Homo sapiens: one gene and its partners. The protein of the gene in region 3 interacts with the protein of the main gene of each other region in a pairwise test. Each region holds a gene or a part of one and is shown on either strand. Other genes may lie near its edges.

What was found. Proteins that work in one complex are often made in the same cells at the same time.
Region 1: the proteins of PTPRJ (region 3) and TRMO interact in a two-hybrid assay, tested with the Homo sapiens proteins (one large-scale study listed by BioGRID and IntAct).
Region 2: the proteins of PTPRJ (region 3) and TSTD2 interact in a two-hybrid assay, tested with the Homo sapiens proteins (one large-scale study listed by BioGRID and IntAct).
Region 4: the proteins of PTPRJ (region 3) and TMEFF1 interact in a two-hybrid assay, tested with the Homo sapiens proteins (one large-scale study listed by BioGRID).

The regions. Positions count from the first base shown.
Region 1 is NC_000009.12:97,905,501-97,909,000, reverse strand, and holds part of TRMO (tRNA (adenine(37)-N6)-methyltransferase), read left to right. Parts: intron 1-3,500. UniProt on the Homo sapiens protein: S-adenosyl-L-methionine-dependent methyltransferase responsible for the addition of the methyl group in the formation of N6-methyl-N6-threonylcarbamoyladenosine at position 37 (m(6)t(6)A37) of the tRNA anticodon loop of tRNA(Ser)(GCU).
Region 2 is NC_000009.12:97,626,869-97,630,368, reverse strand, and holds part of TSTD2 (thiosulfate sulfurtransferase/rhodanese-like domain-containing protein 2), read left to right. Parts: intron 1-2,756; 5' UTR 2,757-2,806; coding exon 2,807-2,971; intron 2,972-3,500.
Region 3 is NC_000011.10:48,127,059-48,130,558, reverse strand, and holds part of PTPRJ (receptor-type tyrosine-protein phosphatase eta isoform 1 precursor), read right to left. Parts: intron 2,780-3,500; coding exon 2,516-2,779; intron 101-2,515; coding exon 1-100. UniProt on the Homo sapiens protein: Tyrosine phosphatase which dephosphorylates or contributes to the dephosphorylation of CTNND1, FLT3, PDGFRB, MET, KDR, LYN, SRC, MAPK1, MAPK3, EGFR, TJP1, OCLN, PIK3R1 and PIK3R2. Plays a role in cell adhesion, migration, proliferation and differentiation.
Region 4 is NC_000009.12:100,567,149-100,570,648, forward strand, and holds part of TMEFF1 (tomoregulin-1 precursor), read left to right. Parts: intron 1-3,500.

The DNA of each region.
Region 1 (3,500 bases), on a different chromosome or scaffold from region 3:
CCTGGGTGACAGAGTGAGACTCCATCAAAAAGAAGAAGCTGGTTGCCAAGGAGATGTCAGATTGCAAAAAGCTGTTCTTTGTGTTACAACTCAGTAAGGAGCCAGCATAACCATATAAAGAGGGAAGTTCATTTATTCATTCTACAGTTGTTTACTGAGCTTCTGCTAGGTACCAGACATTGGTCTAGGTTCTTGGAATACATCAGTGAACAAAACAGATATAAAAAACCCCTGCTGTCATGGAGCTTGCATTCTAATGGGGAGGAGAGAGACAAATTAAAAGTATAATAAGCAATCAAGTTATTAGACCAAACATATTCAACATTATATAATATTAGAAGGTGATAAGAGTTACTGAAAAATTTAAGAATACAGCAGGCTTGGAGTGTTGTTACTATTTTATTTTATTTTTGAGACAGGGTCTCACTCTGTCACCCAGACTGGAGTGCAGTGGCAAGAACATGGCTTACTGCAGCCTCAGCCTTCCGGGCTCAAGCAGTCCTCCCACCTCAGCCTTCTGTGTAGCTGGGACTACAGGTGTGCACCACAACACCTGGCTAATATTTTGATTTTTTTTTTTTTTTTTTTTGAGACGGAGTCTCGCTCTGTCGCCCAGGCTGGAGTGCAATGGCTCGATCTCGGCTCACTGCAAGCTCCGCCTCCCGGGTTCACACCATTCACCTGCCTCCGCCTCCCGAGTAGCTGGGACTACAGGCGCCCGCCACCACACCCAGCTAATTTTTTGTATTTTTAGTAGAGACTGAGTTTCACCGTGTTAGGCAGGATGGTCTCGATCTCCTGACCTTGTGATTCCCCCGCCTTGGCCTCCCAAAGTGTCCAGATTACAGGTGTGAGCCACCGTGCCCAACCTATTTTGAATTTTTAAAGAGACGGGGTCTCATTTTGTTGCCCAGACTTGTCTTGAACTCTTGGGGGTCAGGGGATCCTCTGTCTCAGCCTCCCAAAGTGCAGGGATTACAGGTGTGAGCCACTGCACCTAGCCTGTTGCAATTTTAAATAGGTGGCCCCAGTGGGCCTCACTGAGAAAGACACATATGAGCAAAGGTCAAAGAGGTGAAGACATGAGCCAGCCTGTCCAGAGAAAGGACATGCTGGCCTGAGGGACAGCCAGTGCACAGCCGCAAAGTGGAGGGTGCATGGCACGTTTGAGGTCATGTGGTCAGAGTGGACTGAGGAGGGCTGAGCGGAAGGATATGAGGTCAAAGAGGCACTAGAAAAGGGACGAGGTCACCTAAGGGTTTTATAGGCCATTGTAAGGACTTGAGTTTTGATCTTGGGAGAAGTAAAAGGCAGAGGAACTTGATGTCCGTATCCCCAGAGAGCAGGGGACCATCTCTGGGGTCAGATCACTACCTGTGTGATTTCTGGGATGTCACACCTCAGTGACATGCAAAGGCAAGCTGGAGTTCCTTATTGAGACAATGAAGACTTTCATTCTATATCCAGAAAATAAAGGCTTACACAACCAAAGATACTAGATTTTCCCCTGCTTTACTAGCAGGGAGAGAATGAAGAGGCTAGGGGGGTATTTGGCTTTGATAATCCAACCTGAAGGAGGTTTTTCTGATGGGAAAAAGAAGTCTAAAAGTTGGGACTGGAGATACATGCCAACTGACTCTGAGATTTCCCCATTTCTTCCTGTCAGAGCCACAGCCAGCCCACACTGTTGCCTTTTGCAAAGGAAAAGCCACCCCTTCCTCTGGGTGGAGGCAGCCACCTGCCAGGGCCCAGGAACTGGTTTTAGCCCCAACATGCAAACTTCAGCCAAGTGCCGTATGCAGGGCACCCCCTGCACTTCTGGACACGGCAGTCTCGTGGTCATGAGTGGTGATGCCACTTGAGGGTTGTGCTTCTCTTTGGCTCCTAAGGCTTTACTTTTAAACAAAGCTTTTGATTTTAAAATTGATCTTTTTATTTTTAAAAGTTTTGTTGATAGAAATCATTACATCACTGTATACAGTTGATGGGAGGAGGCTGGTCAGTTGTAAAAGGATTTTATGGTGGAACAAAACAGTCCTGCCTTCTAGACACTTTATGCTTACCACTTGTCCTGTGGTTATTGTCTAATGCAAACTACTATGGAAAGTTTTGTTTTTCTTTCTTTTCTTTTTTCTTTCTTTCTTTTTTTTTTTTTTTTTGAGACGGAGTCTTACTCTGTCACCCAGGCTGGAGTGTAGTGACGCGATCTCGGCTCACCGCAACCGCCTCCTCCCGGGTTCAAGCGATTCTCCTCCCTCAGCCTCCTGAGTAGCTGGGATTACAGGCGTGAGCCACCACACCCAGCCTGGAAAGTTTTGTTTTTTAAACTGCAGTGCAGTATGTGTCAGATGTTTGAAATATGCCTTACTGATTAAAAAAATGATTAAAATGAGAAATTACGCAGTGTAACTACAAAACAGGAACTGATTGATAGCAAACAGCAAAATTCAGAGCTGTTGCAGAAATAAGAAGTGACTTCAGGAAGTTCTGAGTCTAGAAGAGGTTAAAGGTGTTGAAATGGGAGGAAGTTTGGTGCTGGAGTAAAGGTCTGGGCAGAGTGCTGTGGGCACTCTGAGAGGAGAATCCTGACTTGTGTCTGGGAGGGAGTGTGGAAGGAAACAGTGCTTGAGCTGAGCCTGGCAGGATGAGTAGGCAGGGAATTGGGGGAAGGCACCCATGCCAGATAAACGGCCAAGCAGAGGCCTGGAGCCTCTCCCAGAAACGCCGTCACAGGGGAGTGTGATGAGCTCTCCTCATTTTTGAGTGGCCTTCAGAGCCATTTTCTATGAGCCATGCAGTAAAGGAACCTTATTGCCATATAATTGATTTTTTTTTTTTTTTTTGAGATACAGTCTCTTTCTGTCACCCAGGCTGGAGTGCAGTGGTGCAATCTTGGCTCACTGCAACCTCCACCTCCCGGGTTCAAGTGATCCTCCTGCCTCCTGAGTAGCTAGAATTACAGGCGTGCGCCACCATACCTGGCTAATTTTTTTGTGTGTGTGTATTTTTAGTAGAGATGGCGTTTCACCATGTTGGTCAGGCTGGTCTCAAATTTCTGACCTTGTGAGCCTCCTGCCTTGGCCTCCCAAAGTGCTGGGATTACAGGTGTGAGCCACCGTGCCCAGCCCATATAATTGATTTTTGACTAAAAATTGTACTTCATGGCTTTATTTACCCAACCTGCTTATTAGATATGGCCCACAGTGATTTTTGGCTGCTTGTAGAAATCAAATCCACTCCAAGAGGGATAAAGATCCACTGCCACCACAGATGATATTTTGAGCAGGGACAGTGTTTTTAAGATCTGTACCTTCCTGGAAGGGGCATTTGGATGTATGTGATGTTGTAGTTATGAAAAACTAGGTCACAGTTACTTTCTAAATTTATGTTTTATACATACCATATTAAAAATAAAATACATTAAAAATCCTACAAACATAGGAAGTTTTGCTGTTTCTTAGGGACACAGATGTGAGAGAGTCCCAAAGCAAAGGGATGTT
Region 2 (3,500 bases), on a different chromosome or scaffold from region 3:
AGAGGTGCCACAAATAATAATAATTCAGAGTATGTACATAAATCAAAATAAGCTGAGACTGAAAAAAGATGCAGAGTCGGAGGAGATCATTTTGGGGTGGTGGGAAAGGCACCCCACACTCAGGTGCAGAGACCTTGAGTCAGGAAAGAACATGGCTCATTTGTGGAACTGGGCATGGTCCAGTGTGGCTAGAGTAGGATATCTGATGGGGAATGGGGAGCATAGTCAGAGATGAGCCTAGAGTATAGGGAAACTAAGTTTTTCAGGCCTTCAAAGGAAGCAGTGACACAGGGTAGCAGACAAGACATAAGTGAAAGGTGACACTTGAGTTCAGTCTTCATATACATAGTAAGCATATGGGGAGGGAAAGAAGTGAAAAAGTAAGGGAAACAAAGCAGTGGAAAGCATAAATGCTGGGACAGACTACATCAGGTCATATAGAGGGAGATTGGAAAAGATGCTGGAGGTGGGACCGGATTGGATAGTAATTCCTTTCGACAATGTTACCTCCCAAATGTACTGCCCTTATAGGTAAATAAGTTATCTGTTTCTAGAACAATGCCTGGAACCTAGAAGACCCTCCATAAATATTTGTTGAATGAATTTTAATTTGGAAATGATATATGTACTTTCTCTACCTTTACAATAAAACAGCTTTGAGCATGGAGGAAGTGTGTTGAATAAGATTCTTCTACTTATTTTACTTCTGCCTGGAAGGCTTACAGGTTTGTGTAGAGTTAGGGATGTACTTTTTTCAGTGGGACTTTATATGAAAGACATTTTCATGAGAAAGGAAAGAGAAGCTAAAGAAGGTAGTATTTCTTCACCCAGTCTCTTCCACTTATTTTTCAAATACAAGAGAATTTAGGTTTAATAAATCTGTATTACCTTGCCTTACCCTTATAACAAAGCTCATTTTGAGCCCCATGAAAGCACCACTTAGCTGATTCAAATGCATTTTATGTGGTGCAAGTGACATCTTAATTTATGAATCCAAGGAACAAAGGTCCTTTATAAGAAAGTTGGTATTGCCTGTGTGTGTCTGTGTATGTTTAGTCTCCATCAGTCCTATCCAGCATTGTTAACAAGCAGTGTGTGTTCCCCCACACATAAACTGCTCCTTGTTGCCTTCACCTGGTTGAGGTACCCTGTAGGCAGAGTTGTGAATTGGCAAAGTTTGTCACCAGTGTCTCCCACCTTCCTTTCTCTCATTCTTAGTGGTGCTTTTTCTGCTCCCTCTTGTGGAGTTTGGGACTACTTTGCATGTTACTATTTTCAGAACCTTCAGTGTCCACCTCTGGCTGCCTCCTTCAATATTGTCCTGAAGAAACTAACTTTGCCAGTTCACTAGTAATATGAAATAACCAGTTGTTATGTTGTGGGGCAGGAATTTGGACAGGGCACAACAGGGACACCTTGTCTCTGCTCTCAGCTCAGAGGCCAATCTGGAATCTGAAGGGTCTAGTGGTTGATGCTGGCTGTCAGCTGGAGGCCTCTGTTCCTCTCCACCTGGTTCTCTGTGTGTGGTCTCTGCATGGGTTGGATTGGCTTACTCACAATACAGTGGTTTGGTCTCCTCAGCGTGAGCATCTCAGAATGAGAGCTTGCACTAGCGTATCCTTTTGAGAACCCAACCTCAGTCATACAGCATTGCTTCCATCACGCTTTATTTTTGGGAGTAGTTAACAAGCCTGCCTAGGCTTAGGGAAATGGACCAGAAATACTGCTGCAGCCATTTTTGGAAAATATAATCTGTCACAGCTAATTTTTAAATAAAATTTTAATGTTAAATTTAAAATACAGCATTCAATTAAAATATTAATAATATTACCATTCATTGAACCCTAGTTTGTGCCAGACACTATATATTAATATTTCTTTCCAGTCTACAGTACAGTACTGTAATGTAGATACTACAATGCACAATTTCCACAAGAGAGATTTAGAACTCAGAAACCTTAAGTAGCTTGCCCATGTTCACATGCTTGGCAAACTGCTGCAGCACAAACCAAAGCCCATACTTTTTCTCAGTGTGCCTCTTAGTGCTTGTCACCTGTCACCTTTGCTTTACAAAAGAACCAACATGGTATGATGGTTGTAGTGTGTCCATTTTGACAAGATTTGGCCACAGTAGCGATTTTGACATTTCTTCTGGCATATTACAGTGGGGCTGTCTTGGGAACTATTTCTTCTAAGGAAGGAAATTTTCATAGCTCTGAAATTAAGGGGCAAAAAGAAGAAAGTGTTTATAACTGAAGGTGCTGGCACACATCTTGATTGATTTGGGTTGTACCTGTTGCTTTTCTGGTATTATTTACCCTAATGACTGCATGGCTCGCTCCCTAATTCAGGTTTCTGCTCAAATGCTATTGCTGCAGAAAGGCTTTTCCTACTCTCTGTGTTCGAAGGGCTTCTCCATCACTGCCTCCCTACCCTGCTGATTATTCTTCATAACCTTTACACCATCTGACTTTAAAAATAAAAAATCAATTTATCCACTTGTTTACTTCACCCCACTGGAATGTAAACTCTAAGCAGGCAGAAACTTTTTCACTTTCGTTTACTGCTATATTCTCAGTGCTTAGAATAGTGCTTGACTTCGAGTCGTTCCTAAGTAAATACTATTGATTTAGTAAGTAAATGGATGGTTAGCTTGGGCTACTTTGCCCATGCTGATTTGCGTGATTGATTAGCTTCATATTTTCTTCAAGAAATCAAAGAATAGCATGGCTGCTTCTTTCTTATTTATATTCTAGGAGGTATTTAACTGAAAGGAATATCTGCTTCACTGTTGCAACCAAACCAGATGCCTTCTTCCACTTCACCAGACCAAGGAGATGACCTGGAGAACTGCATTTTAAGATTTTCTGACCTGGATTTAAAAGATATGAGTCTTATTAATCCCAGCAGCAGTCTTAAAGCAGAATTAGATGGCAGTACAAAAAAGAAATACTCGTTTGCAAAGAAAAAGGTAGAATTCTTATGAATGTTTCATGATCATGTATGTGTGGTTAACGCAGATACATTTGGAAGTCGGTTATCAAGGTTGCTCTCCAGCTCAAGGTAAAGTCTAGTCAGGAACATTAACCAGTGATGTTAATTCCATCCCAGGCAAAGGGTAATCATAGGCAAGGTGTGGTCCTGGAATAGCCATGGTGGAGTACTTGAGGAGGGTGGATCCTAGACAGATGGATTAGATTTCATTCCCCACCCCCCAGGTCAAAAAAGACCATAAACAAAGTTGAAAACCAAATGACAAGTGAAGAAAAAAGTTGGTAATTATGATCAACAAAAGATCACTAAAAACACGTATCAGTAAGAAGATAAATGCTATAATGGAAAAATAGGCAACAGATTTGAACAGGCAAGCCAGAAATAAACAAATAGATTAAGCAGGAAAAAGTATTCAGCATTACTACTAATCAAAAATATTAAAAAAAAAAATAGGGTAGCATTTCTTTTGCCTTTTATTTGGACCAACATTAAAAATATTGATGATA
Region 3 (3,500 bases):
ATATGCATCTGAAATGATTCTGCATCATGGCTGCTCCATGCTAAGCCGATCTCCGTCGTGCTGACCACTGTCACTCGGAAGTCAGAAACTGGAACAGGGGCTATGCAAAGAAAGTAAACAACTAGATTAAAAATATACTTCTCCAGGAGACAGGGATGCCCCACCTCAGAAAATACTGAGATGAAATGTACACTTAGGACACCTGATCCCTCTCTCTGTCTTCTTTGTATCATCACCTACAACATGAGCCCCTCAGAAACTGCTGTTTCTGGCCATGGAGAGAGCACTTGATCATGAGAGTGCAGAAGCTCTGTGCTTACATTGCACACAATCATTCACAGGAAATGAGAGGAGGCGTGAGCTCCTGTGGTCAAGGGCTCAGGCTCTGGAGGAGAACCTTGGCCACACTGGCTGCTTTATCTCGAATGCATTACTAGCCTCCCAGAGCCTCTGTTCAGGGAGGGACAGCAGAGAGAGACCAGTCTTGACCCCCAAAATCCATTCCCCCATTTTCCCTTCATCATACCCACCCAGATTTTTAGCCCTGTGTGTGCATACCTGTTGGAAACAAAGACCACATTTCCCAGCTCCCATGGAGCTAGATGTTGCAATGTGACTAAGTTTTGCTCAACGAAGCATGAGCAGAGGTACTGGGTGACTTCTAGGAAGTGTCCTTTAAGGGTGGGGCACAACCTTCTGCCCTTCCTCCTTCTTATACCTGTAGTGTGGATGCAATGACTGGAGCTCACGCTGCCTGGCTCTAGAACCAAAACCTCAGCGGTGGCTGCAGCTTCCTGATCCCAGGATCACAGCTCAGAACATAGACCCCTGGATCCCGCAACTACAGCAGAGACTTCCTGATTCCTCCCTCTGCTGTCTGTGACCAAGGTGGTGACTCTCCAGGGGGTCAGTTCTGCAGACTTAGTCCAGGAGTCATTTCTTGGGGCGAGGCCTAAAGCCTGCTCCTCAACTGTTATGAGCTGACTTGTGCTCCCTCACCCCCAAATGTGTATGTTTATGTCCTAACCCCCAAGACCTCAGAATGTGGCTGTCTTTGGAGACAGGGTCTTCAAAGAGGTAATTAAGTTAATGTGAGGTCATGAAGGTAGGCCCTAATCCAGCAAGACTGGTGTCCTTATAAAGGGAGATGAGGGCATAGGCACACGCAGACTAAGGACAACCATGTGAGGGAGAAGACAGTCATCTATAAGCCAAGAGGGAGGCCTCAGAAGAAACCACACCTGCCGTTGCCTTAATCTTTGACCTTCAGCCTCCAGAACTATGAGAAAGTCTATTTCTGTTCAAGCCACACAGCCTTTGGTACTTGTTCTGGTAGCCCTAGCAAACTAATACACCAGCTCTTCCAATGATTCTGCAAAACCTCAATTCCCAGGATAAATCCCTTTTGGTTAAAATAGCTCACAGTTTCTGTTTCATACAACTGAGCCTTGGATAACCTCTATCATCCCCATCCTGCCTAGCACTGGGCTTCTGTTACAGGAGAGAGAAATAAACCCCTGTCTTGTTTAAGCCACGGATACTTGGGTTTTGTTGTTGTTGTTTTTGGTGGTGTTATTCGTGGCTGAACCTAATCCTAACTAATAAATAGTAAAAGAGTAAAAGGTAAAGAAATGCAAGCATATTTCATTTTCCCAAAGATCCAGTCCAAAATACATCTATAAGAATGCTAAGGTGTGCTTCCTGCGAAGGAATGGACATTCTTGTGGGATAAGCCTGGGTCCAGAGCCACACACCCCTGAGTTCAAGTCCTGCTCTGCTACTCACTAGCTCTGTGGCTTTGGGCAAACTGTTCAGCCATCAGGGTGTCATTTCCTCATCTGTAAAAGGGGACCCCAATACCTACCTCGGAGGCCACTACAGTGTCTATAAATCTCATGGCACAGTGCAAAATGCAGTGCTGGTGTCACTACTATTGTTTAATAGTATATAATCAATATTATACCACTGTACTACTAGTGCACCATTACTGTTTTATTTTACATTATCGGACCTTCTTTGAAACCTAAAGCTTTTTATTTGCTGCATAAAATCTTATTTTTAAGGGACATTTAAACAAACAAAGATGAGATACAGCTGTGCCAGTGATTCGTTATAATGTCAGCACCCAAGACACAAGGGGATATGAATACCAGGTCATTTTTGTCTCCCTGTATCAATTCACTCTAGGTCTCCTCCACACTGGAAAGAGAGTTACAAGCGCAGGCTCCAGGTGAGAAATACCAGAGGCTTAATCTCACCTCTGCCACTTTCCAGCTGTGATACCTGTCTAGCACCTCTCTCAGCCTTGGCTTCCTATCTATAAAATAAGGCTACTTCCAACCACATCACAGGGCTGTTGTGAGCATACAATGTGCCAGTGCAAGGAAAGCATGTCACACGAAGCTTGGCGTGTGGTCAGCCAACAGTCACCATTACTACATCATGCATCCTGTGTCTGGGCCTGGCACGGAGCAGGACAGCAGGAAAGGGTGGTGAGAGCCAGGCATGAACTCACGGGTGTGCACTTGGAGGAAGCCCGGCGTGCCCTCGATGTCACCTAGGACAGGACACACTGTGATGTTGTAGAAGGTGCTGGAGCGGAGTCCGGGGATGACAGCGCGAGGCTCACTGACGTTGAGATTGGAAGAATCTGTCTCCCCCGCCACATGTATCTTGTAGGTATAGTTAGATGACGACTCGTTATCGCTGACTTTCCAGATCAGGGTCAGGCTTGTGGCACTGATGTTCACAGCGGTGACGTCAAAAACCTGAATAGCATCTGTGAGAACACAAGAGGAGTTCAAAATAACCAGAACGGCCAAGGCAGAGGGAGGGAGAGGTCATCAGGGCATGCTGTCAAGCCCAGCAAACTCTCCTGGGGGAGTGTTCCTTCCTCCTCTGCACCATCAACCGTGGCTAGGAAAGCATGACGGTCCCAGCCAAAGTCAGGCATCATTGGGCGGTGAAGAAACAACCTGGCCAATGGCACCTGCAGGGTTATTCTTTGTTCCTTTTTGTAAGTTGACTTTAGAGATTTGACCTAAATGATGACTTGGACTCTATGCATGTCTTACCCTAGGGCCAGGGGCACCCAGAAAAGTTGTCAAACACACATGATGCAAGAGCGAACACTGCGATCTATGTGATCGCCCGAGATCACAGAAGTCAGGACGAGGCAGGCCTGGGTTCCAGGGCTCACTCTGCTATGACACCCAGGTGGGCCACAGGAAAACCACTTGAGCTCAGCTTCCTCACCTATAAAACTGGAGAGCAATCCTAACCTCAAGAAAAGATAACCCGAGTGCCAGTTATTCACCACCTGCCCACTCCACCCTCCCGACATATCCACTGCCCTTCCCTCACCTGCTCTGGGCCCAGGAGGCTGACCTTGTGCAAGGCATCATGGGGGGTCTTGCCACATGGGCTGTGACCGGGTTCCACTATGAGCCAATGGGCAGGCCCCTGAAGGGCCACAGGAGAAAGGAGTCAGTGCCTTCCTC
Region 4 (3,500 bases), on a different chromosome or scaffold from region 3:
CTCCCTCACCCCCTCTTCTGCAGCCACACTTGCTGTTCTTGGGCATGCCATGCATGCATGGATGCTCCCACTTTAGGGGACTTGCACTGGCTCTTCCTTTGCCTGGTATGCTGTCCTCCAATTGTTTGCATGGCAGGCTCCTCACCTCCTTCAAGTCTTTACTCACGTGTTACCTTCTTAACCTACCCGGATTGCCTTATTTAAAATTGCAACCCTCCCTTCCTGCAACTTTCCTGGCTCATACCTGGTGTTCGCAGTTTCCCTTAACACCTCACACCCCACATCCCCTGTAGTGCATATCACCTTCTAACATAACCATTTAATTCACTTACTTTGTTTATTGACACTCTTCTCCCGGTAGCTGGTAAGCAGGCCAGGGATCTTTATCTGTTCTGTTCACTGATACATCCCAAATGCTCACCACAGTAGGTGCTCAATAATTGTGGTAAATGGATGTGTGAATGAATTCACACGTGAGACAGTGGGAGTGAATGGGATTGCCTGTGGAAGGTGTTTTGGGATGAAAATAGAAAGTGGAGGACTGAATCCCTGGATCTGCCTTTAATCAGTAACAGAAGAAGAAGTAATAACCTAGAAGTTAGTACTCTAGGTATTAGGAGAGTGTATTAGTCTGTTTTCACTGCTAATAAAGACATACCCAAGACTGGGCAATTTACAAAATAAAGGGTTTAATTGGACTTACAGTTCCACGTGGCTGGGGAGGCCTCACAATCATGGGGGAAGGCAAAGAGGAGCAAGTCACATCTTACCTGGATGGCAGCCAGTAAAGAGAGGGCCTGTGCAGCAAAACTCCAGTTTTTAAAACCATCAGATCTCGTGAGACTCATTTACTGTCACAAGAACAGTGCAGGAAAGACCTGCCCCCATAATTCAATCACCTCCCACTGGGTTCCTCCCACGACACATGGGAGTTGTGGGAGTTACTATTCAAGATGGGATTGGGGTAGGGCACAGCCAAACCATATCAGATAGTATAACCAAAAGTCAGTTGGAGAAAATGATATCCAGGGAGAACTGCAGGGATGATATATGGCCTATTGGTTCTTTTTGATACTCTGATTTTAATCTTTGGCTTAAGCCAAACCATTAGAGAGCTGCATATCTAGGACATTGTTACAGCTCCTTATGGAACTGTTTTTATATTACTGAGCTTTGACTATTGGCCATTAGCCTACCATGAAGGACATTATTTAAAAAATCCCATGAGACTTCATTATATCATTGAATTTACTGCAGCTGTGTTGTTGAGGATAATGTTCTTTATGTTAGAAGGTGCCCTCTTTAAATGAGGACCAATGAGATTAAGTTCCCTTAAGTTTCATAACAGTAATAACTGTGCTTCTTTTGAATGACTTGTTTGATTTTATTTTATGGAGATTGTATTTTGTGTCAACTGTCCTCCCTCCCTCCTTCCTTCCCTCCCTCTCTTCCTTCCTTCCTTCTCCATTGGTGTTTAATATATGCACAGAGTTGTGCAACCATCACCACAATCAATTTTAGTACATTTTCATCTCCTCAAGAGGACACCTCATACCCTTTAGCTTTTACTCCCAAATCCCCTCATGCTCTCTAGCTCTAGGCATCCGCTAATTTATTTTCTATCTCTATAGACTTACCTATTCTGGATAGTTCATGTAAATTGAACTATATAGTATGGGGTCTCCTGTGTCTAGCTTTTTTTAACTTAGCGTAATATTTTCCAGGTTCATCCATGTCATAACACATATCAGTACTTCATTCCTTTTTGTGGCTGAATACTATTCCATTGTATGGATGACACCACATGTTTTTAATCTACTCATCATCAGTTGATGAAAATTTAGGTTCTTTCCACTTTATGGTTATTATGAAAAATGCTGCTCTGAATGATCATTTGCAAGTTTTTGTGTGAACGTGTTTTAATTTCACTTGGGTAAAGCTTAGTGGTAGAATTGCTGGGCCAAATGGTAACCCTGTGTTTAACATTTTGAGGAGCTGCCAGACCGTTTTCCAAAGTGGCTGCACCATTTTACACACCCTACAGTACCTTTGACAACACTTGTAATTATCTGACTTTTTGATTTAGGCTATCGTAGTAACTGTAAAAACTGGCATATACGGTGGCTTTGATTTTTATTTCCATGATGGCTAATGATGTTGAGCATCTTTTCATGTGCTTATTGGCTATTTGTATATCTTCTCTGGAGAAATGTCAGTACACATCCTTTGCTCTTTTATTTTTTGGCTATTATTGAGTTGTATTAGTTATTTATATATTCTAGATATAAGTCCCTTATCAGATATATGGAACTTACTTTTTTTTTCCATTTTGTGGCTTGTCTTTTCACTTTCTTGATAATGTCCTTAAGTACAAAAGATTTTAATTTTGATTTAGTGCTATTTATCTTTTTTGTTGTTGTTGTTGCTTTTGATTTTTGGTGTCATATCTAAGAAACTGTTGCCTAATCTAAGGTCACAAAGATTTACTCCTATGTTTTATTCTCTTCTAAAAATTAAATTTATTTAAAAATTGACAAAATTATGTATACATATTATGTACATCATATTTGGAAATATATATACATTGTGAAATGTCCAATCAAGCTGATTAACATATGCATTACCTCACATTGTTACCACTTTTGTGGTGAGAACACTTAAAATCCTCAGCATTTTCCAAGAATACACTGCATTGTTAACTATAGTCACCATGTTGTACACTACATTTCTTGAACCTATTCCTCCCATCTAACTGAAATTTAGTATCCCCTGACCAACATGTCCTCAAAGCACCTCCTACCACACCAGTCCCTGGTAACCACTATTCTACTCTCTACTTCTATGAGATCAACTTTTTTAGGTTCCACATATGAGTGGGATCACTCAGTATATGTCTTTCTATGCTTGGCTTATTTCACTTAATATAATGTTCTGGAGGTTCATCCATGCAAATGATAGGATTTCCTTCTTTTTTATGGCTGAATAGTATTCCATTTTGTATATATACCTCATTATTTTATCCATTTATTTGTTAATGGACACTTAGATTAAATCCATATCTTAGCTATTGTGAATAATGCTGCAATAAACGTGGTAGTGCAGATATTTCTTCAATATACTGATTTTATTTCCTATAGTTATATACCCAGTAATGAGATTGCTGGATCATATGGTAGTTTTATTTTTAATTTTTTGAGGAACTTCCATACGGTTTTCCATAATAACTGTATCTTATGTTTTTTTTCTTCAGAGTTTTATAGTTTTAGCTCTTACGTTTAGATCTGCGATCCATTTTGAGGCAATTTTTGTGTATGACACGAGGAAGAGGTCTAGCTTCATCCTTTTGTGTGTGGATATCCAGTTAGCACCATTTGTTGAAGAAACAGTTCTTTCCCCATTGAGTTATCTTAGCACCCTTGTCAAAACCAATTGACCATAGATGTATGGGTTTATTTCTAGGCTCTCCATTCTCTTCCATGATCCACATACCTGCCCACTGC